Homo sapiens: one gene and its partners. The protein of the gene in region 1 purifies or fractionates together with the protein of each later gene. This does not show direct contact. Each region holds a gene or a part of one and is shown in the gene's direction. Other genes may lie near its edges. The genes, in order: STARD7, TLE3, DOHH and KHDC4.

Region 1 (7,036 bases):
TGAAATGGGGTAAAGACCTAATGTAAGCTAAAATTCTAAAACTCTTAGAAGAAAATATAGGCATAAGTTCTTATGACCTTGGATTAGGCAGTGGTTTCTTGGCTATAACACCAAAAACAAGCAATCAAAGAAAAAATAAACATCAAAATTAAAAACTTTTATGCATGAAAGGATACTATCAAGACTAGTATAAGCACATGAAAAGGTTAGGGAAATACCAGTCAAGACGCAATGAGATACCATTTCACACCCACTAAGTTGGCTGGAATAACAAAGATGGACAATAACAAGTGGGGCAATTGGAACCAAGGATGTGGAGCAGTTAGAATCCTCAAACATTGCTGATGTGAATATAAAATAGTGTAATTGTTTGGAAAACATTTTGGCAGTTGCTTAAAAAGTTAAGCATAGTTACCATGATCCATCAAATCTGCTCCTAGGAATCTACCCAAGAGAATTGAAAACATGTCTATATGAAGATTTGTACACAAATGTCCATAGCAGTATTCTTTTTTTTTTTTTTGAGACAGTTTTGTCTTTTCGCCCAGGCTGGAGTGAAGTGGTGCAATCTTGGCTCACTGCAACCTCCACCTCCTGGGTTCAAGCAATTCTCCTGTCTCAGCCTCCCAAGTAGTTGGGATTCCAGGCTCCTGCCATCACACCTGGCTAATTTTTGTATTTTTAGTAGAAATGGGGTTTTGCCATGTTGGCCAGGCTGGGTCTCGAACTCAACCTCAGAGTGATCCACCCACCTTGGCCTCCCGAAGTGCTAGGATTATAGGCATGAGTCACTACGTCCGGCCAGCAGTATTATAATAGCAGTAATATAATATAGTGCTATTATAATAGCACTATAATAAAATAGTGGAAACAAATTTTATTTGATGAATGGATAAACAAAATGCGATCTATCCATACAATGGAATATTATTCAGCTATAAAAAGGAATAAAGTACAGCATGGTTGAACTTGAAAGTATGCTAAGTGAAAGAAGCTCAACACAAAAGCTACATATCATATGATTCCATTTACTTGAAATGTCCAGAATTGGCAACTCCATAGAGACAGAAAGTAGATTAGTGGCTGCCTAGGACTGGGAGGAGGCAGGAATGGGAAGTGACTAATGATAGATAGAGGTTTCTTTTGGGGGTGATAAAAATGTTCTGGAATTAGGGGTGATGGTTGCACAACCTTGTGAATATACTAACAAGTACAGAATTGTACACTGTAAAAGAATGAATCTTATGGTATGTGAATTTATCAATTTAAAAACAAAGGGGAAAAATACATACATACTTATAATAAGACAACCCAATAAAAAACGGACAAAAGATATCAATTGACATTTTAAAACCATAAACCTTCATAGTTAACATTTGAGGGCTACTTACGTGCCAGATAACAAACACTTTATTTTATTTTATTTTTTATTTATTTTAGAGATGGAGTCTCACTCTGTTGCCCAGGCTGGAGTGCAATGGTGCGATCTTGGCTCACTGCACCCTCAGCCTCCTGGGTTCAAGTGATTCTTCTGCCTCAGCCTCCCGAGTAGCTGGGATTACAGGCGTCCACCACCATGCCCAGCTAATTTTTGTATTTTTAGTAGAGATGGAGTTTCACCATGTTTCCCAGGCCGGTCTCGAACTCCTGACCTCAGGTGATCCGCCCACCTCGGCCTCCCAAAGTCTGGGATTACAGGCGTGAGCCGTTGTGCTTGGCTTTATTTTATTTTATTTTATTTTATTTTATTTTATTTTATTTTATTTTATTTTATTTTGAGACGGAGTTTCGCTCTTGTTGCCCAGGCTAGAGTGCAATGGCACGATCTTGGCTCCCTGCAACCTCCGCCTCCCGTGTTCAAGCGATTCTCTTGCCTCAGTCTCCCGAGTAGCTGGGATTACAGGTATGTGCCACCGTGCCCAGCTAATTTTGTATTTTTAGTAGAGACAGGGTTTCTCCACGTTGGTTAGGCTGGTCTCAAACTCCTGACCTCAGGTGATCGCCTGCCTCAGCCTCCCAAAGTATTGGGATTACAGGCGTGAGCCACTGCGCCTAGCCTATTTTATTTTTTAAGAGACAGTGTAGCTGGGCACGGTGGTTTACGCCTGTAATCCCAGAACTTTGGGAGGCCGAGGCGGGCAGATCATGAGGTCAGGAGATTGAGACCGTCCTGGGTAACACGGTGAAACCCTGTCTCTGCTAAAAATACAAAAAATCAGCCGGGCATGATAGCGCGTGCCTGTAGTCCCAGCTACTGGGGAGGCTGAGGCAGGAGAAATACTTGAACCCAGGAGGCGGAAGTTGCAGTGAGCCCAGATCATGGCACTCTATTCTAGCCTGGGTGACAGAGTGAGACTCTGTTTCAAAAAAACAAACAAAAAAAAGAGACAGAGTCTTACTGTATTGCCCAGACTGGAGTACAGTGGCAGAATTGTAGCTCACTACAGCCTCCAACTCCTGGGCTCAAGTGATGTTCCCATCTCAGCCTATAGCTTGGAGTACAGGCATGTGCCACTATGCCTGGCTAATTTTTTAAATTTTTTCTTAGAGGTAGGGTCTCACTGTGTTTCCCAGGTTAGTCTTGAACCTGGCCTCAAGGAGTCCTCCTGCCTTGGCCTCCCAAAGTGCTGGGACTACAGGAGTGAGCCTCTGTGCCTGGCCATAGATATTAAGCACTTGACACTTACTTTTTTTTCGTTGTTTTTTGTTTTTTGTTTTTTTTTTTTTTTTGAGACAAGAGTCTCACTCTGTCGCCCAGGCTAGAGTGCAGTGGCGTGATCTCGGCTTACTGCAACCTCTGCCTCCCAGGTTCAAGTCATTCTCCTGCCTCAGCCTCCTGAGTAGCTGGGATTACAGTTGCGCGCCACCATGCCCGGTTAATTTTTGTGTTTGTAGTAGAGACAGGGTTTCACCATGTTGATCAGGCTGGTTTTGAGCTCCTGACCTCGTGATCCACCCTCTTCTGCCTCCCAGTGTTGAGATTACAGTCGTGAGCCACCACGCCCTGCAGCACTTGACACTTTGTAATCTTTATAGCCAACCTCGAGATAGGTACTATTATTATTTCCATTTTATAGATTTAGAAATAGGAACTGGTTAAATAATAATCTAGTTAGTGAGTGTTGGACTAAGATTCAAACTCAGGAACTCAGTTTTTATTGACTATACTGTGTCCTGTTTATATACTACATACTGTGGTTTACTGTATAACCTTCTTGCACAGACCTTTGTGTGGACACTTCATTTCACAGGGCTGACTAACCACCTCACCATGGCTCTTTTTCCCCTTTACAGATCTATTAATGAGATGAAGCGGTTGGAAGAAATGTCAAATATGTTTCAGAGCTCTGGAGTCCAGCACCACCCTCCAGAACCAAAAGCCCAAACAGAAGGGAATGAAGATTCAGAGGGCAAAGAGCAACGTTGGGAAATGGTGATGGATAAGAAACACTTTAAGCTGTGGCGGCGCCCAATTACAGGCACCCACCTTTACCAGTACCGAGGTGAGCCCAGTGTGGCTATCTTTTGGGTTCCATAGTTGCACAGGTGCATGGGATTTCTGTTCTTCATACTTCTCTAAACTGTTCTGGTTGTTTCTCAGAAAATTTGCCGTAGTTTTTTGTTTATTGTTTTTCTTCTCCCAGATGACAAATGTCTCAGTGTTGTCTTTGCTTACATCCTCTTTGTCTTTCTTTGTTGCTCTACTAAGACTTCTAGTTTCTGAACCTGCCTTTAAGATCTCTTAGTACTTTAGATCTGAAACGCCGCTAGGTGAAAGAAACAAGGCGAGTGACTGGAGTATGGCCAGCATCCCTTATTCTTTCTTTTCATTCTAGTTTTTGGAACCTACACAGATGTGACACCTCGGCAGTTCTTCAATGTTCAGGTGAGTTAATTTTTCTCTCCAGATTTGGAGCCTCCTAGCATATCAATTGCTACTGTCTACATGAATCATTTATCTGACTCAGGTGACATTGGCTTAAGTACATCCATCTATCTACCTGTCATCCACATTGCATAGCATTTAGGTAAACATTTGACTTAGAATTTCTTTATCTGTCCCATGGGGATGAGATCAGTTTTACCCTCCCACAGGACTGTTGGGAATATCAGATAGAGGAATGGATATGAATACTTTAATGTATTTTATGAGGCTTTATTGTTTTTTTCCCCAAACAACTTAAGAGTAAGTTACATACATCATAGTCCTTTACTCCTAAATTCTTCCAGTGTGTATTTCCTAAAACTAGCCATATGCCGTATTTCTTAACTAATCATGATACCATTATTGAAATTAGTAAATTTAACACTGATGGAACACTTTCATGTAGTCCTCTGTTTGTATTTATCAGTTTTATCAGTTGACTCAATGTCCTTTATAGCATTTTCCACTTCAGTACAGATAGGATTATATTTAGTTGTCACATCTGTTTAACCTCAAATCAAGAACATTTCCATAGTGGAGGGTTTTTTTTTTTCTTTCCTCTCCCTGAGACAGGGTCCTGCTGTGTTACCCAGGCTGGAGTACAGTGGTGTGATCATGTCTTGCTGCAGCCTTTGTTTCCTGGACTCAAGTGATCCTCCCACCTCAGCTTCCAGGCCTACAGGCATGCGCCACCACACTTGGCTAATTAAAATTTTTTTTTCTTAGAGACAGGGTCTCCCTATGTCTCCTAGGCTGGTCTTGAACTCCCTGGGCTCTAGTGATCCTCCTGCCTTTGCCTCCCAAAGTGCCGGGATTACAGGTGTGAGTCACTGTGTTGGCCCAATGTTTATTTCATAAAGATGAAGAGTATCTGTTCAAAGACTGCTTTCCTCCTTGTAGGGGAAGATGGTTTAAAAAATGAAACAGGGAGGTGGGATCGCCCAGAGTTCTAGAACAAAATTTTTTTCTTTCTGGATTTTTCATTTGTTTTGCTGACTTCCGATAACTACTTCGTTGGTTATAACACTCACTCTAACGTGCAAGTGCACTTTCCCTGAGGTACTGGATCTTGTTAATTTGTAGTGAATTTTTGTTGGTTTTATGTATATGGTATATCTGTCTTAAGTTGAAAATCTTCAGTTACTAGTGATGCCAGAAATTTAAAAAAATATGCTGCTTGCATTTTTGTGTGTGAAGTGTCTACTTAATACTTTTGGACTTTTTGTTGTTTAAAACTTTTTAGAATTGTCTTACCCTTACACATTCATATCACTATATATTATTTTCCCCAGATGTGTCTATTAAAATATTTTGTTACACTTTTCCTTGGTTTGTCTAATGAAGATTCACATTCAGTGTAATGACATTAGCCTGTATAAGGTGATTTTGAAAGAAACATCTGTAGTAAACACAGCCATGTCTCTCACACTCTGGCACTGTCTGTTAGGTCAGATTACTCTCTCCTTGTAATAAGATTCTTGGATCAGAGACCAAAGCATCTGGAAAGCTTTCTGCATTTTTGTTTTGGGTCTTCTTGGGTATTCATGGTCTTTTCTCTTTCTGCAGCTGGACACAGAGTATAGAAAAAAATGGGATGCCCTGGTAATCAAGCTGGAGGTGATTGAGAGGGATGTGGTTAGTGGTTCCGAGGTTCTTCACTGGGTAACCCATTTTCCTGTGAGTATTTTTACTTCTGATTTTATTTCTGTCCAGGTTTGTGTGATGCAGAACACTAATCCTGCTCCTCCATTTCTTTAGTATCCAATGTACTCACGGGATTATGTTTATGTTCGGCGGTATAGTGTGGATCAGGAAAACAACATGATGGTGTTGGTGTCGCGGTATGTATGGCTGCCTGTGGCTGTTGCCGAGTTCCTTTAGCTGTGGCCTTCATTCCTACGTACCTGAGTTTGTATATTCTTAGTGTCCTATGAGTCTCCCACAGGCTTCCCTGCAGCCAGTGCCCCTTCCATCCAGCTAGAAGATGAGGGACTCTGACTGTCTAGAAAGAATGGAGAGATACAAGCTTTTAGTTAAACTGTTTTTTTGGGTTCTTTAATGTTGGTAATCAAAAGAAGTGCTGTTGTTTTTGACCCACAGCCTAGTGAGCCGTAAATTACCAAAGGAACTCACTTCATTTTTAATTAATTCATTTGTTTGTTGTAGACGCAGGGTTTCACAGTGTGGTCCAGGCTGGTCTTGGACTCCTGGCCTCAAGTGATCTTCCTTCCTTGGCTTCCCAGTGTTGGGATTACAGGCATGAGCCACCACGTCTGGCCTTCGCTTCATTTTTAGAACTTAGTTTGTATTTATTCATCTTAGTGACTCCTTTGTTTTGTGTATTTAAAAATATCAGAGCCAGCTTTTTAGGCCTTCCCCTTAACTTAGCTCTCCTGTTGTTTTATATATAGACATTACTAAGAGTTTGCTTCTCCTTTCCTCCTTACCAGTGCTGTGGAGCATCCGAGTGTGCCAGAGTCTCCAGAATTCGTCAGGGTCAGATCATATGAATCCCAAATGGTTATCCGTCCCCACAAGTCATTTGATGAGGTGAGTTTTACCTCATCCAAGAGATAACATGTCATGGCTGTGGAATTTTCTCAAGGGATGTCTTACCTGAACTAGGGAGGAGGGGGTGTGGCGCAGGAACAGTTCTCGCTCGGGGGAGTCTGATGCTACTGGTCTGGGAACCATTTTTTGGGAACTCCTGACGTAGGTGATGTACCTGGAAGTTCCCCAAGGACAAAGTAGTGGCAATCCATTGGTTCCCTCTTATCTGAGAGATAGTTAAAAGAATCATAGCCACTGACGCATTAGCCTGTATCAGTAGCATTCTTCAGGAACTAGAGCGAGTACCTCCTGTCAACATTTTACTACAGTGGGCAGAGCACTGGATGGAAACTTTTCTGGATTTCTGCTTCCTTGCCAGAGTAATGGGAAGATTGGACTCATGCTGTCTGCCTTCTTTAAAATTCTGTGACCTTTCTTTGAAAAGAATATTTATTTCAGCCTAATGAGGTGTTTTGTGTTTATTTTTTATCTTTTTAAGCTAAATCTCCACTGAGAGTATAGATATTGATGCTAGTGGCTGCTGGTTTTAGTTCCACTTCA
Region 2 (5,664 bases), on another chromosome or scaffold:
AGCACCCTCCTAGGTCTGATGTGGGCACCTGAAATGATCCCTCTAAAAGGCGTAGCCATAAACCCGACTCACAGAAAGCATTCAGTAAATGCCAGGGATTATTATTTCTTATTTGCATTCCTCACTTTAATATTTTAATCTTAAATTTTTAATATTTTAGTTTTTTTTTTTTAACTCACTTTTTTCTTAAGGAAAGATGAAAGTCTCAGAGACAGAGTAACTGAATGCAAAATGTCTGTGCTTTCTCACCTATAAAATGGGGATGGAAAATGACCTCCCATACTCCTGGGTTATTGGGTGGGTGGGGAGGGACCCTGAGCCTCAGAGGACCTGAGCAGCACCTTTGGGAGCCGCCCTCCTCTTGAGGGCAGAGAATGCTGAGCTCAGTCCATCTGCCCTCCCACCACCTGCAGATCTTCTCGCTGGGCTACTGCCCCACTGGGGAGTGGCTGGCTGTGGGCATGGAGAGCAGCAACGTGGAGGTGCTGCACCACACCAAGCCTGACAAGTACCAGCTGCACCTGCACGAGAGCTGCGTGCTCTCCCTCAAGTTCGCCTACTGCGGTGAGCCTTGGATGGGCCCAGGCCTGATGGAGTGGGGTGGGGAACCCAGGGCAGCCTGGCCCAACAGGACAGAAGAGGGGCCCAAAGCTTATAGAATAAGCTAGGCCCTGGAACCAGGCCTCCTGACCCCTGAGCTGGTGCCCCTTCAACACCCTTAAGTGATCTTGTTCCACATCCTTGTTTCTCGGATGCAGATGTCACCATGAGTTATTGAACTCTCAGGACACTAGGCCAGAGCCAGTTCTTGCAGGCTTGGGGCAAAGGAACAGGACAGTAGCAGTGCAGGCAGTTCCTCTCCATGGTTACAACCACTTGCTTTGGCATCTGAGAGCCTTGGATGGGAATGTCTGCTCCTCCACTGACAAGCTGTGCAGTCTTGAACATCTCACCCTCTCTGAACTCTAGTGGATTTTTCTCTCTGGTCGGGAATAGCATGGTGCTCATGGCTTTCAGGGAGCATAAGGGCTTTAACACTTGTAGAGCCCTGGCCGAGTTCCTGCTTGGAGGAAGGTCGCCCACTGACTGCTGTCTTCAGCCAGGTCTCCAGACTCCCAGGGCTTGGATATTTTCAGTATTTCCTGTTGCCTTCCAGTAGTAGAATTTAGAAAGGCCAGTCAACCTTAGTGGCTTTAACAAGAATCTTTTGAGGCAGCGTTATCACTGCAATGAACTTCAAATCCTACCTTTTCCCATCCTAGCCCCGCCCAGCCCTCCCCCTGGATTTCAGAGAAAGGCCTTCTCCAGGTGTCCGCATGTCCCATTTGCAAAATGCCTCTCGAAATTGGAGAGTTATACTAGTTAGCAGTTCTCACTGCTTTTCTATGGCAGCTGGCCATGTCTAGGGCAGGTCTTGCTTTAGAGGGCAGTGAGCTACAACCTGATCATGCCTTTGCCTCCCACCTGCAGGCAAGTGGTTCGTGAGCACTGGGAAAGATAACCTTCTCAACGCCTGGAGGACGCCTTATGGAGCCAGCATATTCCAGGTACTGCCCACCGTCTGAGTCCTCCTCTGGGTTCTACCCAGAGTTGAAACTTGGTGATGGTGATGGGAGTGAGGATAGCAGCAGGAAGAACAGGAGGAGCCTGGAGCCAGGATCAGACCTGCCCTGGTCCCCTCCCCACCCCTACCTGATAGGGGAGCAAGATTGGGTTCTCCCAAGGACCTGGGGACTTCAGCAGGACACACAATCTGCTACTGATGGCTTCTGACCCCCGAGGGCAAGGGCTTCTAAGCCGGGGCGCTTGTCGGATTTGGAGAGTGAGGAATAGCATAAGTGTTTTTGCTCTGGGCTGGATGCTGAGCACCTGCGGGAGGTGCGCTGGGCACCTGGGCACCCGGCAGCCTTGCCCAGAGCAGTGTTGCCTCCTCAAGTGAGTGAGTGTTTCCACCTGCATTCAGCACCAGCAGGGACATGGACAGGAAAGAGAGGAGGAAAGGAAGAGGCTTTTTATAATCTACCAGGATCTGGGGCCTGCCATACTGCACTGATTGGCACACACACGTGTGCACACACACACGTGCACTCTTTCCCATACACGATCAAACTCACACTCATTTACTCACGCACACTTGGTCTCCCCCACACACTTTCTTCCTCTCTCTCTCTTGCGCTTCCACACACACACTTGCATTCTCTCTCACTCCCTCAGCCAACATGCCGCTTTCTGGACCCAGGCTGAAATGTCTGGTGTGCAGCGTGTCAAACCTCATTGTTAGGGTCTCTAGTTACAGCACATGCTTCAAACATCAGGTGGCAATCCTTTTCCTAACTCATCAGGCTGTGGGCCTGAGCTGCTGACGCCAGCTCCTAGCTTGGAAATGCTTCTTCCTATTTGTAAACTCGGAGGAGAAGCTCTTGCTAAAGCGTCCTGTTCTGATCATTATGACTTACTGTAAAGATCACGTGGGAGACTGTTACTGAGCTTTTCCTTATGGAAAAGCAGGTGGGAGGGGAGCTCTACCTGAAAATGCTTCATGGGTGCTTTAAAGCCTCCCCCACCTCCTCTTCACCGCACTGTGCTCCAGGTCGGAGCATCAGAGAGGGGCAGAGGAGGGCAATTGTTGCCGAGAGAACCGAGATGGTGTTGAGCACTGGAAAATGAATTCCTGTCTTTTTTCTCCCTGCACCCCACGCCTTCCTGCTGCTTCTCCTCGTCTTCCTCCTCCAGTCTAAAGAATCCTCGTCTGTCTTGAGTTGTGACATTTCAGCGGATGACAAATACATTGTAACAGGCTCTGGTGACAAGAAGGCCACAGTTTATGAGGTCATCTACTAAACAAGAACTCCAGCAGGGCTGTCAAACTCTGGGAGAAACCGACTCGGCTCTGACAGGGAGACCCCCAGGCGAGGGGCCCCGAGGATGGCGGAGGATGGGCCGCAGGCAGCCGAGCGTTCAGGGCTGCGCTCCGGCCGGCTGAGAGGGCACGTGCCCCGTCACAGTCTGGACTCCTGGGCCTGGATTGATGTGTCTCACAGACTCGGAAGGGTTCTGCTCCTCCTCCTCCCCCTGAACAATGCTGGCAGTTGCTACAAATAGATTTATTGGAGGCTTATGGCTCCGGTTCCCCCACAGACCCGCTCATGAGTCTCTGTTTGTTCTTCCCTTTTCTTTTGCCCTGTCCCTCACCTTGGGTCGGGGGTGCTGGAGTGGACCACAATGTTGTGCTGGGGGATGGGGGGGTCTCTCTTTGCCGATTGTGCAGTGCACAAGATTTGTGAAAAATGTAAATAACAGACTCCTATTGCGGACTGATCAGTGGGAGAGGAGGCCCCTTCCCACCGGAAACTCTGAGTGTGTATTTCGCCTGCTGTATTTGTAATCCACTCGTGGTGGTGGCTTTTTTTTTTTTTTTTTTTTAAATAAACAGATGCTCTCACCTGGGAAGAGGAGACAGGGAGGGGAACCAATTGAAGAAAGAGGAGAAAAGTCTTAGAGTGTGGAAAAGGCAACCAGGTTGGCCGTAAGGTGCCTGCTGGAATGCGTGTGCCTCCACACGGGTCTGGGCATCCGGACTGATAACCAGCCGGCCAGACTGAGGGATGGAAGGCACTGAGATGGGGGCCCGTCCAGGCGGACACCCGCAGAAATGGAGCTTTCTGTGGTCTCTTGCACTCTGGCTGCCTCTTGCCCTCTCTGTGTCTCTCTTTCTTGGTCTCTCCCTCTCTCCTCCTCAGCCTGGTCTTTCTCTTTGGTGCACACTTAGTTATTGTTGTGAGCAATGGAAGTTCAAAGGAACTCCCTCTCCAGCTCTTCTGAATCTTGGGACACAGCCTAAAAAGGACAAAAAGTTAGAAGACAGCATAGCAACTCAGCTCAGGGAGCTACCAGAGAAAAATAGCAACTGATGTGGGTGCTTTTTTTTTTTTTTTAATTTGAATAAAAAGAATTAGAAGTGATGTCCTTTTATAAAATGCCTTCTCCCCCTTCCCGCCTACAGTCTCTTCCTCTCCCCTTAGAGGGGGGAAAGTGTATAAACCTACAGGGTTGTGAGTCTGAAAAGAGGATCCCCCTCACCCCCACCCTGGGCAGAGCAGTGGGGGTTGGGGGGTGGGAGAGGGGGACACAGATCCTGGCACACTGTGGATATTTCTTGCAGATTGCAGTCTCTTGTGGCCCAAACAGGTTAGGTAGACTATCGCCTCTGGCAGGTGCCACCTTTTGGTACCAACATGTTCTGAGGTGTTAGGATTTGGGTTGGGTTTTTTTTGTTTGTTTTTTTTTTCCTTTTGGTCTTTTTTTTTTTCTCCTTTTAAAGAAAAGCTAAAGGCCGCTGTGAGTCCTGGTGGCAGGCTCTCCATGGATGTAGCATATCGAAGATAATTTTTATACTGCATTTTTATGGATTATTTTGTAATGTGTGATTCCGTCTGCTGAGGAGGTGGGAGGGGCTCCAGGGAAAGCCACCCACCTTCAGTGAGGTTGCTCCCCAGCTGAGCGCACCGGGCATGGGATGTGGAGGCTGGCGACACACCCTGTGCCTCTCCAAGGCTGGGCGCGTGGGGCGTCCAGAGTCTCTCTGGGTCTCAGATGTCCATCTGCCACCTCTTGTTAAGGCTCTAGCCAGAAGGGAGGGTGAGGGTAGAAGAAAGTTATTCCCGAAGAAAAAAAGAATGAAAAGTCATTGTACTGAACTGTTTTTATATTTTTAAAAGTTACTATTTAAAGGTTGGTTTGATTGTTGCGTCTTAATTGCCTCTCCCCCCAGTTTGCCAGTCCCGCCCCCCGCCCCCCGGGAAAACAGCCAGGCCACTGTTGCTGTCACATTCTGGAGCCTGGGCCAGGGCCATTTCCCATCGATGTGAGCTCTTCTCATCTCACAGCATTCCCTGCGCTGCTTCCACCCCCTTCTCCCCTTCCAGATACCCAGCATCGCAGCAGGGATTTCACAATCCCATACTGTGTCGCCTCCCATCCAAGCGCCAGGGAGGGTGGGGGGTAGGAGCTAAGACTTCCTCTGGACAGATGGGCAGGGCAGAGTTCACTGAGGTGAAGGAAGACCACAGGTTAACACCAAAGTATTGTACAGCTGTCAATGCAAAACTTTTTTGGAAAAAAATTAAACGTAATGAACTTGAAGCGAAACTGCAAAGTGTCTGTGAACATCTGGACCTTGGAAACCTGCACAATTTTATTTTAAGCTTAACACGTTTAGGTGGGACGAGGAGATCTTCAATCTCTAGGTCACAAAGGTGTGTTTTTGGATGATACAGAAGGAAGCATTTGCAGAAGAGGCAGACCCAGAAATGCAGGTCATTGTCCCCAGGGAGGGAGTCGGGGGGCTGGGCGGGAAGAGGAGAATGCTGGTGCCCATTCCCGGGGCGGTCCCCAGGCTCTTGGATTTCATGCACCCATTAGCAAAAGCTCTCAGGGCACTGGAGATTAACATGGTTTCCAACTCCTTATTTTGTCAAAGTCATTCTCAGCACAAACAATTGCCTGCTGTCATTTCATACAAGAAAGGGAATCTCACATTTAAAAAAAAAAAGAGGAACGACAGTCTCAGCATAAAGCACAGTCTTTATGACTAGAAGGGACAACTGGCCTCTCTCCACACAGAGGGGTCATTTAGCTGGAGAGGGAGGTCCTCTCAGGCTTATG
Region 3 (7,721 bases), on another chromosome or scaffold:
CTCTACTAAAAATACGAAAAATTAGCCAAGCATCGTGGCAGGCGCCTGTAATCCCAGCTACTGGGGAGACTGAGGCAGGAGAATTGCTTGAACCCGGGAGGCAAAGGTTGCAGTGAGCCAAGATCGCACCATTGTACTCCAGCCTAGGCAACAGGGCAAGACTCAGTCTCAAAAAAAAAAAAAAAAAAAAAAAGGTTAAACATAGAATTGCCACATGACACAGCAGTAACACTCCTAGGTATCTACCCAAGAGAAACAAACATGTAACATCCACGCAAAAACTCACACACCTATGTGCATAGCAGCTTTATTCATAACATCCACAAAGTGCACACAACCCAAATGTACATCCACAGATGAAGGGAAAATGCTCCATTCATACAATGACACGGTGTTTTGCAATATGAGGCAATGAGGCTCGGACACAGGCTACAGATTGGATGAACCTCGAAAGCATCATGCCCAGTGAAAGAAGCCAGATACAAAAGACCACATAGTGAGTGATTCCATTGATACGAAATGTCCAGATAAGCAAATCCATAGAGACAGGAAGTGGATTAGTGGTTGCCAAGGGCTGGGAGAGGGGGATCAGGAGTGACTGGAATGGACTTTATTTTGGGGGGTTGATGGATATGTTCTAAAATTGATGTGATGGCCGTGAGCTGTGGCTCACACCTGTAATCCCAGCACTTTGGGAGGCTGAGGCGGGCAGATCACTTGAGGTCAGGAGTTCAAGATCAGCCTGGCCAATCTGGTGAAACCCCATCTCTACTAAAAATACAAAAATGAGCCGGGTGTGCTGGCGCGCACCTGTAGTCCCAGCTACTCGGGAGGCTGAAGCAGGGGAATCACTTGAACCCGGGAAGTGTAGGTTGCAGTGAGCCCAGATCATGCCACCACACTCCACCTTGGGTGTCAAAGCAAGACTCCGTCTCGGAAAAAAAAAAAAAAAATTTATGTGATGATGGCTGCCCGACTCTGAATATACTAAACACCACTGAATTATCACTTTACACAGATGAATTGTACAGTATGTAAACTATATCTCAATACAGCTGTTATTTAAAAAGTTCTTGCCCGGCGCAGTGGCTTGCGCCTATAATCCCAGTGCTTTGGGAGGCCAAGGAGGGCGGATTATGAAGTCAAGAGATCGAGACCATCCTGGTCAACATGGCGAAACCTCATCTCTACTAAAAATACAAAAATTAGCTGAGCGTGGTAGCACGCGCCTGTAATCCCAGCTTCTCGGGAGGCTGAGGCAGGAGAATCCCTTGAACCCGGGAGGCGGTGGTTGAAGTGAACCGAGATTGCACCACTGCACTCCAGAAAAAAAAAAAAAAATCCCCTTTGGAGCTGAGTTAAGGAGAAAAGAGAACAGGGAAAAGGAGGAGGCAAGAGGTTACAGTTTCAGATGCAGTGCTCGGGGATGCTCTTATTGCAAAGATGATGTTTTAATAAAGATCTGAAAGAGGAGCTGGGCGCAGTGACTAACGGCTGTAATCCCGGCACTTTGGTAGGCCGAGGTGGGCAGATTACTTGAGGTCAGGCCTTCAAGACCAGCCTGGCCAACATGGTGAAACCTCATCTCTACTAAAAATACAAAAATTAGCCGGGCATGGTAGCAGGCCCCTGTATTCCCAGCTACTCGGGAGGCTGAGGGAGGAGAATCGTTGGAACCCGGGAGGCAGAGGTTGCGGTGAGCTGAGATCGCGCCACTGCACTCCAGCCTGGGCAACACAGCAAGACTCTGTCTCAGAAGAATAAAATAAAAGGAGAGGAGAGGGAGATTCTAACACAGAAACACAGAGACAGACACACAGGGGTCAAGGCCAGGTGATGACAGTGGCAGAGATTGGAGTGACGAAGCCACAAGCTGAGAAACACCAAGGACTGGCGGCCACCCCCAGAAGCTGGAAGAGGCAGGAAGGATCCTCCCCTGGAGCCTCCAGAGAGGCCACAGATCTGCAGATACCTGGATTCCAGACTTCCGCCCCCCAGGGACTTGCTCAATCCCAGAGGACCCACCGAACAGAAGACGCAGACTTGGTTCTTCTGTGCTATCAGTTTCTCGAAGGTCTACAGAGGCCAGATGCCAAGTTCTCTGACTTACACAGGCCTTGCTTTTGGCTGAGGCTTCGATATCTGCGTCCTGCACCCTGGGATTATCTCCTCCTGGGGAGCATCCTTGGGGCCAGTCACACCTGGCACCCTGCCCTCGTAGCCTTCCTGAGTCAGCACAGCTCCTGGTCCACGGGAAGTCCTCCGTAAACAGCCTGAGCCACAAACATGTTGAGATGACGTCCTCGCAAGGCAGCTGAGGGCTGCAGTGATGCCTGTTATCTGCAGTCAGTTTTCCAACACATAGGAAGGCAATACAATAATTTAAAAAAAAAAAGGGGGGGTGGGCCGTGCACGGTGGCTCACGCCTGTAATCCCAGCACTTTGGGAGGCCGAGGCGGGCGGATCACGAGGTCAGGAGATCGAGACCATCCTGGCTAACACGGTGAAACCCCGTCTCTACTAAAAATACAAAAAAATTAGCTGGGCTTGGTGGTGGGCACCTGTCGTCCCAGCTACTTGGGAGGCTGAGGCAGGAGAATGGCGTGAACCCAGGAGGCGGAGCTTGCAGTGAGCTGAGATCGCCCCATTGCACTCCAGCCTGGGTGACAGAGCGAGACTCTGTCTCAAAAAAATAAAAGTGGGGGTGTCAGCTCCATGAGGCCAGACACTGTGTCTGTTTTGTCCTGTGTCCTCTGTGCCCAGGACACTATCCTCTGTGCTCAGGACACTGTCCAGCACACAGTAGTTGCTCAATAAGTATTTGTGAATGTTGTCTTAAAATAGAAGTTGGCCTTCCAAAAGGATTTCTTTGCTATGCACAGCATTTTATGTTTTTTCATTAATTTTTATTTAATTATTTTTTTGAGATGGAGTCTCACTCTGTCACCCAAGCTGGAGTGCAGTGACGCGATCTTGGCTCACTGCAACTTCCGTCTCCTGGGTTCAAGTGATGCTCCTGCCTCAGACTCCTGAGTAGCTGGAATTACAGGCACCCGCCACTAGGCCAAGCTAATTTTAGTATTTTTAGTAGAGATGGGGTTTCAGCATGTTGGCCATGCTGGTCTTGAACTCCTGACCACAAGTGATCCACCTGCCTTGGCCTCCCAAAGTGCTGGAATTACAGGCGTGAGCTACAATGCCCAGCCATGTTTTTTTATTAATTGCTCATTTTTTTTTTTTTTTTGAGATGGGGTCTTGCTCTGTCACCCAGGCTGGAATCCAGTGGTGTGATTACAGCTCACTGGATCCTTGAACTCCTGGACTCAAGCTATCAAGCCACCTGAGTAGCTGGGCCTACAGGCATGAGCCACCAGGCACAGTTGATTTTTTTTTTTTTTTTTTGGAAATGGAGTCTTGCTCTGTTGCCCAGGCTGGAGTGCAGTGACAGGATCTCAACTCACTGTAACCTGTGTCTCCCAGGCTCAAGCGATTCTCCTGCCTCAGCCACCCAAGTAGCTGGGATTACAGGCTGAGCCACTGCGCCCAGCCAAATTAAAAAAAATTTTTTTTCTGTTGAGACGGGGGCTTACCACATTGCCCAGGCTGGTCTTGGAATCTTGGGCTCAATCGATCATCCTCTCACCCCACAGCCTCCCAAAGTGCCAGGATTACAGGTATGAGCCACCACTCCTGGCAGTCACCCACATTTTAAAAATAAGAGATTGCAAGCAGGGCACAGTAGCTCACGCCTGTAATCCCAGCACTTTGGGAGGCCAAGGCAGGTGGATCACCTGAGGTCAGGAGTTTGAGACCAGCCTGGCCAACATAGTGAAACCCTGTCTCTACTAAAAATACAAAAAGTTAGCTGGTGTGGTGTTGCATGCCTGTAATCCCAGCTACTCGGGAAGCTGAAGCCTTTTTGTATTTTTAGTAGAGATGGGGGTTTCACCATGTTGGCCAGGCTGGTCTCGAACTCCTGACCTCAAGTGATAACACCCACCTCGGCCTCCCAAAGTGTTGGGATTACCGGTGTGAGCCACCGTACCCGGCCTCTTTCAGGTCTTTCTTCAGATGTCACCACCTCAGATTCTGGCCACCCTTCCTGAAACTGCACACCCTATACATACACCGCCCTTGGCTACCGAATTTTTTCTCGTTAGCCTTTTTCACCATCTAATAGGTATTGCATTTACTTATCGTGTTATTTTCTGTCTCTATAACAACACTGGGAGGCGTACGAGGGTAAGGGCTGAAGGCTCTCTTGTCCTCAAGGCCATGTACTATTTATTACATACATGAATGAATGAACGACTGCATTTCTTCCTTTTTTTATTCCTCACCTACTTAAGGTTCGAGCTCCCTGAGCCCATTGGCCAACACCTCTGGAGTCTGACCACGCCTAGAAACACTGCGCATGCTCCGTTGCTAGCCAGCCCAGGCAGGGCGCTGAATCGGCACAAACCAGTCTCACTTCTTGTACCGCAGTGGGGAGGTTGGAGAGAATTTTTTCCCATGAAAGGGCATACGTTGCCCGTCCCCTTCCCCGAAGAACGCACTAGGAATACTGTTCCTGCGTTTGCATGAGCTGTGGCACCAGCACCGACTCAGCCTTCCGGGCCTCCCTCATGCACGGAGCCTCTCACTAGGTCTCACCCGCGGCTGCGTTGGTGCCGTCCGGCACGGTCACGTGGGCGAGAAAATGGCGGCCCCCAGACCGCACTGCGGGCGTCGCGGCAGGTGAAGCGGTGGTGGCAGAGGCGCCTGCGGTTACTGGCCGGGCCGACGGGTCCTGAGTCTCCAGAGCTCGGTGAGGCGTCCCGGAGGCGGCGATCACGGTGTGGGGCCCGGGTCTGGCGGGCGGTGGCACCGGGAGCGCCTCGTTAGGGAATCCGGTCTCAGGGATTCGTTGACTGTGGATGGGGCGGGTTAAGGGGTCTCGAGTCCCGGCGATCTCTTTCCTCTGGGATTTTTTACATGAAAGAGTGCCCACCTCACGTCCTGAAGCTCCTATGTCGTACGGTTGGGTCTCAATGGTCCCCAGTGCCCTGCCAGCTCGCACAGGCCTGCCCTCTGGTTTCTGATGACCCCTCTTTAAAGGTGTCACTCTCCTTTGATGGTCACCTGTGCTTAGGTGGCTACACTGCCCTCGTCAAGCCCAGGCAGCCTTGCTGACGCCACTGTTCACCAGAGAGGGCTGCCAGCATGCCATAGCCAGCCTGTCTTGAGATGAAGCATCCGCCAGGTTCTCAGCCGATCTGGAAAGAGAGGGGTCCCTTCTCCCCTTGGCTGTGTTCTTTTATCCTAAGTCATTCAACAAAGCGTTGGTGGTTTAGAGCCCGACTCTGGAGCCAGACTTCCTGGATTCCTAACTCTTCACGCTGCTCCCAAGCAAGTTCCCAAGCACAGTCCCAAACTGTGCCTCAGTTTCCTCACCTGTAAAATGGGGACAATCTTAGTAACTACCTCACAGGGTAGTGATGTAGATCGAATGAATTAATGAATGTAAAGAGCATGGAGTGCCTGGCGCGTAGCAAATGCTACATAAGTGTCAGCTGCTATTGTCACGGTTGTCGTTTTTATTTTATTTATTTATTTTGAGACAGGGTCTTGCTTTGTAGCTCAGTCTGGAATGCAATGGCACGATCTCGGCTCACTGCAACCTCCGCCTCTCGAGTTCAGGCGATTCTCCTACCTCAGCCTCCCGAGTAGCTGGGATTACAGGCGCCCACCACCACGCCCAGCTAATTTTTGTATTTTTAGTAGAGATGGGGTTTCACCATGTTGGTCAGCTGGTCTCGAACTCCTGAACTCAGATGGTCTGTCCACCTCGGCCTCCCAAAGCGCTGGGATTACAGGCGTGAGCCACCGCGCCCAGCCGGTTATTGTTTTTATTGAGGCCCTACTGCGTGCAGGTCATTGCACTAAGTGCTGGGAATACAACAGTGACCAAGATAGACTCAGTCCCAGCCTTCAGAGTTCTATTCTAATGAGGGATAAGACCAATCACAAGCAACTAAACCAATACTTTCCAATATGATATCTAGGAGTCTTAGGCGCCGTGGAGAAAAATAAAGCTGAATAAGTGAAAAGAGATGGAAGAGTAACATTGTCCATTGTGATCAGGGAAGGCTTCCATGAGGAAGTGATGTTGGAGACCCAGGAAAGCAAGAGGATGAGCACGGGTGTTCCTGGACCAAACTGAGGGTCGGGCTGCTATTTCTCATGGTCCAATAACGAGATGCAGATTAACTGGGGAGGAAGAGAGTTTTTATTTCTGTAACCGGTTACAGGGAGAAGGCCTGGAAAATATCGCCAGACCAACTCAAAATGACAAAGTTTTCCAGAGCTTATATACCCTCTAAGCTCTCCATCTACATGTAACTGAGCATCCATCTAAAGACTTAAAGTGACTAACTTCTTTTAATCTATAACTAAGATCTGAATCCTGAAGACTTTCCTTTGGAACCTCAGTAAATTTACTTAATCTAAATGGGTCCAGGTGCTGGGGTGATCACCCTTATCTCATCTCCAGTGGGTCCAGGTGCTGGGGTGATCATCCTTATCTTGTCTCCTGCTAAATCATGGAGGTTTGGGGAGTTCTTCAGACACCCAGTAAAACTTGTTTCATCCTAAACGGGTCACATTAAGAATTCCTTCGTTATTGGCTGGGTGTGGTGGCTCAAGCCTGTAATTCCAGCAGTTTGGGAGGCTGAGGCGGGTGGATCACCTGAGGTTGGGAGTTCGAGACCAGCCTGACCAACATGGAGAAACCCTGTCTCTACTAAAAATACAAAATTAGCCGGGCATGGTGGTGCATGCCTATAATCCCAGATACTCGGGAGGCTGAGGCAGGAGAATCACTTGAACCCTGGAAGCATAGGTTGTGGTGAGCCGAGATAATGCCACTACACTCCAGCCTGGGCAAAAGAGCGAAACTCTGTCTCAAAAAAAAAAAAATTCCTTCATTATCTTGTCATGCCTTAAGGCCCAGGAAAGGCCTGGGCAAAACTCTTCATGGGCTTTTGTTACATTCCAGCCTTTGTATGAGGGCACTGGCTCTTTTAGCTTTTAATGTTTAACTTAACCACTCAGTCAGTGCTGAAACAGTTATGGAGGCCTGTGTTAGTGAGGCCTGGCCTGCTACGTGGGGACATCTAGGGAAGAATGTTCCTCATGGAGATCACAGCAAATGCAAAGGCCCTAGGGCTGCACTGGGCCTGGCGTGTTGGAGGAACAGCGAGGAGGCCTGTGTGGCTGGAGTGGAGCTAGAGAGGGAAGAGGTGATGGGAGATGGTCATGAAGGGCCTTTGGGACTGTCAAGTAGTTGAGTGAGGAGGCATAGGAGGATTTTAAGCAAGGGAGTGATATGGTCCAGTTTACATATTGAAAGTACTTCTGAATCTGTTATCTAAGCTGTGTAACAAAAATCCCCATAATGGCTGGGGGTAGTGGCTGATGCCTGTAATCCTAATGCTTTGGGAGGCTGAGGCAGGATGATCACTTGAGCTTGGGAGTTGGAGACCAGCCTGGGCAACATAGAAGTGAGACCCCATCTCTACAAATAATAAAAAAAAAATTAGCTGGGCATGCTGGTGTGTGCCTGTAGACACAGCCACTAGGAAGTCTGAGGCAGGAGGATCACTTGAGACTGGGAGTTCGAGGCTACAGTGAGCCGTGATCATGCTGCCGTACTCCAGCCTGGCGACAGAACAAGATCCTGT
Region 4 (7,000 bases), on another chromosome or scaffold:
CATGTTGCCCACCCTGCTTCAGCCTCCCAAAGTGCTGGGATTACAGGCATGAGCCTGTTTGGTTCCTTCGTTCATTCTTTCTTTCTTTCTTTCTGTCTTTCTGTCTTTTTTTTTTTTTTTTTTGGTGATAGAGTCTTGCTTTGTTGCCCAGGCTGGAGTTCAGTGGCACAATCACTGCTTTCTGCTGCCTCAGCCTGCTGAGTAGCTGAGACTACAGTCTCATGCCACCGTGCCCAGCTAATGTTTTGTATTTTTTTAGAGATGTGGTTTTGCCATGTTACCCAGGCTGGTCTGAAACTCTTGGGCTCAAGCGATCCACCCTCCTCAGCCTCCTAAAGTGCTAGGATTACAGATGTGAGCCACCGGTCCCAGCCTTTTTTTGTAATTTATATATTTATTTTTGAGACAGAGTTTTGCTCTTGTTGCCCAGGCTGGAGTGCGATGGCGTGATCTCGGCTCATTGCAACCTCTGCCTCCCGGCTTCAAGCAATTCTGCCTGAGCCTCCGGAGTAGCTGGGATTACAGGCACGAACCACCACACCTGGCTAATTTTGTATGTTTACTAGAGACGGGGTTTCACCATGTTGACCAGGCTGATCACAAACTCCATGTAGTTTAAATTGAAAGAAACCGGATCAGGTTTTACCATCTTACTGTTTTTTCATTCTTCTTTGTTCTGCTGTAATAGAGTGAGGAATTATTAGTTAGATACAATTTAAGGGTTTTTGAGAGCTTTACAAGGATGGAGTTAGTTGGATTTTATGTTAGGATTATAGGAGTGGCACAAAGACAACTTCCTATTGTATGCATGAGGTATATGTATTGTAGGCATTGCTCCTCTACCTTCTATTGTGTTTTACTCCATGTACAGCCAACTAACTGAGCTATAGAGTATCATAACTTGGCCCTTTAATTTTCTTTTTGAAGGTTGTAGCTTCTAGTCCCTAGAGCTTCTGTAATTAGGTGGTCATAAAAATGCACATAGGGCCAAGGTCACAGAGAAATCTTGATTGTGGCCTTCAAGCAGATTGACTTTATTATTGACTTTATTTAATGTCATTTTAGTGAGATTTTTGTTTGCTTGTTAATTCGTTTATGAAGAATGACCAACTGTGTTTACAGGCAGATGAAGGGAAGGGTAGGGAGGTGTGGGACTTGGGAAAGGATAGTTGTACATTGGATGACTAAAAGGCTTTATCTCAGCTGGGCACAGTGGCTCACGCCTGTAATCCCAGCACTTTGGGAGGCCGAGGTAGGTGGATCACCTGAGGTCAGGAGTTCGAGACCAGCCTGGCCAACACGGTGAAACCCCGTCTCTACTAAAAATCCGAAAATTAGCTGGGCATGGTGCTGCACACCTGTAATCCCAGCTACTCAGGAGGCTGAGGCAGGAGAATTGCTTGAACCCAGGAGGCGGAAGTTGCAGTGAGCTGAGATCACGCCACTGCACTCCATCCTGGGCGACAGACTCCATCTCAAAAAAATGAAAAAATAAATAAGTAAATAAATAAAATAAAAAAATAGACTTTATCTCATCATAAAAACTTTTTAATCTAATTTCTCTTTTTTCTAGCTTCAGGCTCCTGGCAAAGGCCTAACTAGCAATAAAAGCAAGGATGACCTGGTGGTAGCTGAAGTAGAAATTAATGATGTGCCTCTCACATGTAGGAACTTGCTGACTCGAGGACAGACTCAAGACGAGGTGAGGAGGCATTGAGACTCTTTGGGGAGGGCGGTGAGTGGATTCAGATAAAGAAGACCTCTAAATAGACAGGCGTCAGATATTTATTAGTGGGTTTGGGTCATAGTCTCTAAAGTCAGGATTGGGTTTAATTTAACTTCAGAGGAAGATAATGGAATGGATATAAATGAATTCTCTGGGTTGGTTTGAGTAAGAAACCATGGAATCAAAATTTCAGATACAGGAGAGAATTCTTTCCTTCTTTACTTGGTTGAATGAATGAATGGGAAGAAAATCTGTCTGCCATTGAAATCAACCAATTGCCACATTTTTTTAATTGAACATTTCCTTTTTTAGATCAGCCGACTTAGTGGGGCTGCAGTATCAACTCGAGGGAGGTTCATGACAACTGAGGAAAAAGCCAAAGTGGGACCAGGGTGCGTATTCTCTTATCTTGTTTATGGAAGGGTTGGGTGTATGACTCACGTTAGCCTCATGTTTTTTATCCTTAGGTAATACGTGTACACAATATTTGATTCAAGGTTTGAGGGGTATGTGTGTGCACACTATAGCAGAATTCTGGATATCAAACAGATACAAGATGTTGGGACCTGTTTTTGGACTTTTATTTCACATTTAATGTTTTTATTGGAGGAAACAAATTATAGGAAAGTGTAAAAGAAGATACTAACCACTAACATTTAATGTATATACTCTTTTTTCTTCTTTCTGTTCCATATGATCTGCAGAAATAATGTATATACTTTTTTTTTTTTTTTTTGAGATGGAGTCTTGCTCTGTCGCCCAGGCTATAGTGCAGTGGCGTGATCTCGGCTCACTTCAAACTCTGCCTCCTGGGTTCATGCCATTCTCCTACCTCAGCCTCCCGAGTAGCTGGGACTACAGGCACCTGCCACCACGCCTGGCTAATTTTTTGTATTTTTAGTAGAGACAGAGCTTCACCGTGTTAGCCAGGATGGTCTTGATCTCCTGACCTTGTGATCCACCCCCCTCGGCCTCCCAAAGTGCTGGGATTACAGGCGTGAGCCACCACGCCCGGCATTGTATATACTTCTTAACTTTTTTCTGTGGAAATAGTTCCCCTCACAAATGGGCTCTTTTTTTTTTTTTTTTTTTTTGTCTTTATGATGGTTATAGTTTGTGATTATTCAGGTAAAGACTTAATCTGTTTCATTTTATTCCTTCCATCATTCCGTGTTTGAGTTTCTCTTCACTGTCAGTTGATAGGTACTTAGGGAATGCAACATTTTTAACATTAGCTTAAACTACACAAAATAAGGTGGCAAAATTTAATTCCTACCCCAAGCCAAGAATTTATTTATTTATTTATTTATTAGAGAAGGAGTTTTTGCTCTTGTTGCCCAGGCTGGAGTGCAATGGCGCCATCTCGGCTCACTGCAACCTCTGCCTCCTGGGTTCAAGCAATTCTCTGGCCTCACCCTCCCGAGTAGCTGGGATTACAAGCATGCGCCACCACACCCGGCTAAATTTTGTATTTTTAGTAGAGATGGGGTTTCACGATGTTGGACAGGCTGGTCTCAAAAGTCCTGACCTCGGGTGGTTCCCCTGCCTCGGCCTCCCAAAGTGCTGGGATTACAGGCATGAGCCACCGTGCCCAGCCCCAAGAATGTATTTAAACTTTCTATATGTGTTGATTGCTGTTTTGAACTTTGTCTTTAAAAAGTTATTTTTACCTGCTACTTTTTATTAACTATATATGGTTATTGATCACTTTATTATAATTTAAGTCCTCTTCACATTTAGAATCTAAATTATCAGTTGATGTAGACCTTAAGAGGTTTCTCTATATGCATGATCAATCTTTCCCCATTAATTTTGTGTGTGTGTGTGTGTGTGTGTGTGTGTGTGTGTGTGTGTGGTTTTTTTTTTTTTTTTTTTTTTTTTTTTGGAGACAGAGTCTTGTTCTGTTGCCCCGGCTGGTGTGCAATGGCATGATCTTGGGTCATTGCAACCTCCACCTCCTGGGTTCAAGTGATTCTTGTGCCTCAGCCTCCTGAGTAGCTGGGACTACAGGCGTGCCACCATGCCCGGCTAATTTTTGTAATTTCAGTAGAGATGGGGTTTTGCCATGTTGGCCAGGCTGGTCTCAAACTCTTGGCCTCATGTCATCCACCCACCTCAGCCTCCCAAAGTGCTGGGATTACAGACATGAGCCACAGCACCCAGCTTGCCCCATTGATTTGGATAGACGAGACCACATTTGTTTATAACCTATTAGACAACCAGCAAAAAGGAATTCTGTTCTTAAATATTGGGTTATCTCAATAGACTGGAAAATAATGGTAGTGAATCCATAAGAACAGATTTGATCTGAACTCTGTGGGCCAGTTGACTTTTAAAATCAAGAAGTTTATTTGTTCCCCAGCTGTTAAAGCATGTTCTGAGACATTAGCTAGCAAAAACCCTTCTAATGTATATAGTCCCTTTTGGTTATTTGGAAACTTGAAACATTACAAATTAGATCTGGTGACCCATTTGACTCCTTTTTTGGTTTTGACCACATTGAGATCATCCTTTTTTGTTTCTCTTTATAGGGATCGTCCATTATATCTTCATGTTCAGGGCCAGACACGGGAATTAGTGGACAGTAAGTAATGTTTTTGGCTCACGTAGCACTTTTTGTGAAGAGCAAAGTACAGGGCTCTGTATAGCAAGTTGGCAAAGTGTCCCTGATGGCTGTTCTAACCCTTGTTCATGAACTATACACGAATTTGTATGGGAGTTTAGAGGGATGGAGAGCCACATATTTGGGTAACGTATAAAGCAGATTTACGGTGAATAATTGAACACTGGCCTGCCTGGGCACTAGTCAGTTCATTCCATTCAGTTTTACTGTCTGTGTTTTTCTAAGGAGCTGTAAACCGGATCAAAGAAATTATCACCAATGGAGTGGTAAAAGCTGCCACAGGAACAAGTCCAACTTTTAATGGTGCAACAGTAACTGTCTATCACCAGCCAGCACCCATCGCTCAGTTGTCTCCAGCTGTTAGCCAGAAGCCTCCCTTCCAGTCAGGGGTATGTTTTGGGGAGGGATCGTTAATAGCATTATCATTTCTATAAAAATGATATGTGCTGGCCAGGCACAGTGGCTCATTCCTGTAATCCCAGCACTTTGGGAGGCCAAGGTGGGTGGATCATTTGAGGTCAGGAATTTGGACCAGCCTGACCAACGTGGTGAAACCCCGTCACGAACATTACCCGGGCATGGTGGCAGGCACCTGTAACCCCAGCTACTTGGGAGGCTGAGGCAGGAGAATTGCTTGAAGCCGGGAGGTGGAGGTTGCAGGGAGCTGAGACCATGCCACTGCACTCCAGCCTGGGCCACAGAGCAAGACTCCATCTCAAAAAAAAAAAAAAAAAAAAAAGTGCCAAGTAATACATACAAAGAAAAAAAAATCGTGAAATTCCAAATTCCAATCCCGAAAGTTACCTGCCATAGGTATTCTGTTTGTGTGTTATCCAGCTCTCCACGGTATAATGAACACCTGATCACACATTTCTTCATATTGATATATTCTAGAAAGGAGATTGATAGAGCAGAAGGTATACATGTTGTACATTTTGAAGTTAGTGGTTTTAATTTGTATTTGTAAACTTGATGACAACTGGAGGACTAAGAAGGCTGAGTCTGATGAAGTAAGACTTTGCTGATACATTCCTCCTAGAAAAAAGGGTTGGAGAGAGCAGCCTTCACTGAAGAGTATCACAGGGCTGACTGTACTACCCAACACTCTACCCCAGTTTTACAGGAGACTGTCTTTGCTATAATTTCTTATTGACTTATTTCAAAGATTGAGGATTTAATTATATATTCTGTTTAATCTGAAGTATTCTGTTCTTCCTACAGATGCATTATGTTCAAGATAAATTATTTGTGGGTCTAGAACATGCTGTACCCACTTTTAATGTCAAGGAGAAGGTGGAAGGTCCAGGCTGCTCCTATTTGCAGCACATTCAGATTGAAACAGGTGCCAAAGTCTTCCTGCGGGGCAAAGGTTCAGGCTGCATTGAGCCAGCATCTGGCCGAGAAGCTTTTGAACCTATGTATATTTACATCAGGTATGGATGGATAGGGCAGGGGACATGTGAATTCTTGTCAACTTGTTGGTACAGTCAGGAGTGATTCAGAAGGAGCAAGAGAAAACTGGGTGTAATTAATAGTAATGAGGGATTTAGATAAATGCTAGGAGTAATTACTTTATAATTAGTTAAAGAAATTGTAGAATTGGGGCACGGTGGCTCATGCCTGTAATCCCAACACTTCTGGAGGCCAAGGCGTAGGACCACTTGAGCCCAGGAGTTTGAGGCCAGCCTGGGCAACATAGCAAAACCCCATCTCTCCAAAAAAATTTTAAAAATTAGGCGGGCACGGTGGCTCACACCTGTAATCCCAGCACTTTGGGAGGCCGAGGCGGGTGGATCACGAGGTCAGGAGATCGAGACCATCCTGGCTAACAAGGTGAAACCCCGTCTCTACTAAAAATAAAACAAAAAAAATTAGCCGGGTGTGGTGGCAGGCGCCTGTAGTCCCAGCTACTCAGGAGGCTGAGGCAGGAGAATGGCGTGAACCCGGGAGGTGGAGCTTGCAGTGAGCTGAGATTGCGCCACTGCACTCCAGCCTGGGTGACAGAGCGAGACTCCATCTCAAAAAAAAAAAAAAATTAGCCAGGTGTTATGGTGTACACCTTAATCCCAGCTGCTCAGTAGGCTGAGGCAGGAGGATGGCTTGAGCCCAGGAGATTAAGGCTGCAGGTAGCTGTGTTTGCACCACTGCACTCCAGACTGGGTGACTGAGTGAGACCCTGTCTTAAAAAAAAAACCAGGTGCGGTGGCTCACACCTGTAATCCCAGCACTTTGGGAGGCCGAGGCAGGCGGATCACTTGAGGTCAGGAGTTCGAGACTACCCTGGCCAACATGGTGAAACCCTGACTCTCCTAAAAGTATAAAAATTAGCCAGGTGTGGTGGCAGGCACCTATAATCCCAGCTATTCAGCAGGCTGAGGTAGGAGAATTGCTTGAACCCTGGAGGCGGAGGTTGCAGTGAGCTGAGACTGCTCCATTGCACTCCAGCCTGGGCAACAGAGCAAGACTCCATCTCAAAAAAAAAAAAAAAAAGAGAAATTATTGAATTAGGAGACGGAATTATCTCTTTAGTATTCAAGTCCTTTGGTTTTGTACAAGTCTGTACAAAAGTGAATCTTGGCCTGTAATCCCAGCACTTTCAGGGCCGAGGCGGATGAATCAGGTCAGGAGATTGAGACCATCCTGGCTAATAC

Evidence for each region.
Region 2: the proteins of STARD7 (region 1) and TLE3 purify together in Homo sapiens (affinity purification with mass spectrometry; 2 studies listed by BioGRID and IntAct, with this or other methods). This does not show direct contact.
Region 3: the proteins of STARD7 (region 1) and DOHH purify together in Homo sapiens (affinity purification with mass spectrometry; 2 studies listed by BioGRID and IntAct, with this or other methods). This does not show direct contact.
Region 4: the proteins of STARD7 (region 1) and KHDC4 purify together in Homo sapiens (affinity purification with mass spectrometry; 3 studies listed by BioGRID and IntAct, with this or other methods). This does not show direct contact.

What each region holds. Positions count from the first base shown.
Region 1 is NC_000002.12:96,191,808-96,198,843, reverse strand, and holds part of STARD7 (stAR-related lipid transfer protein 7, mitochondrial isoform 1 precursor), read left to right. Parts: intron 1-3,294; coding exon 3,295-3,503; intron 3,504-3,836; coding exon 3,837-3,886; intron 3,887-5,491; coding exon 5,492-5,602; intron 5,603-5,683; coding exon 5,684-5,766; intron 5,767-6,375; coding exon 6,376-6,475; intron 6,476-7,036. UniProt on the Homo sapiens protein: May play a protective role in mucosal tissues by preventing exaggerated allergic responses.
Region 2 is NC_000015.10:70,047,274-70,052,937, reverse strand, and holds the end of TLE3 (transducin-like enhancer protein 3), read left to right. Parts: intron 1-413; coding exon 414-564; intron 565-1,470; coding exon 1,471-1,547; intron 1,548-2,590; coding exon of another isoform or gene 2,591-2,653; exon of another isoform or gene 2,654-2,727; intron 2,728-2,733; coding exon 2,734-2,841; 3' UTR 2,842-5,148; downstream 5,149-5,664. UniProt on the Homo sapiens protein: Transcriptional corepressor that binds to a number of transcription factors. Inhibits the transcriptional activation mediated by CTNNB1 and TCF family members in Wnt signaling.
Region 3 is NC_000019.10:3,497,647-3,505,367, reverse strand, and holds the start of DOHH (deoxyhypusine hydroxylase), read left to right. Parts: upstream 1-4,693; 5' UTR 4,694-4,807; exon of another isoform or gene 4,808-5,433; intron 5,434-6,361; exon of another isoform or gene 6,362-6,629; intron 6,630-7,721. UniProt on the Homo sapiens protein: Catalyzes the hydroxylation of the N(6)-(4-aminobutyl)-L-lysine intermediate produced by deoxyhypusine synthase/DHPS on a critical lysine of the eukaryotic translation initiation factor 5A/eIF-5A.
Region 4 is NC_000001.11:155,924,414-155,931,413, reverse strand, and holds part of KHDC4 (KH homology domain-containing protein 4), read left to right. Parts: intron 1-1,573; coding exon 1,574-1,702; intron 1,703-2,038; coding exon 2,039-2,118; intron 2,119-4,257; coding exon 4,258-4,310; intron 4,311-4,574; coding exon 4,575-4,738; intron 4,739-5,327; exon of another isoform or gene 5,328-5,456; intron 5,457-5,570; coding exon 5,571-5,782; intron 5,783-7,000.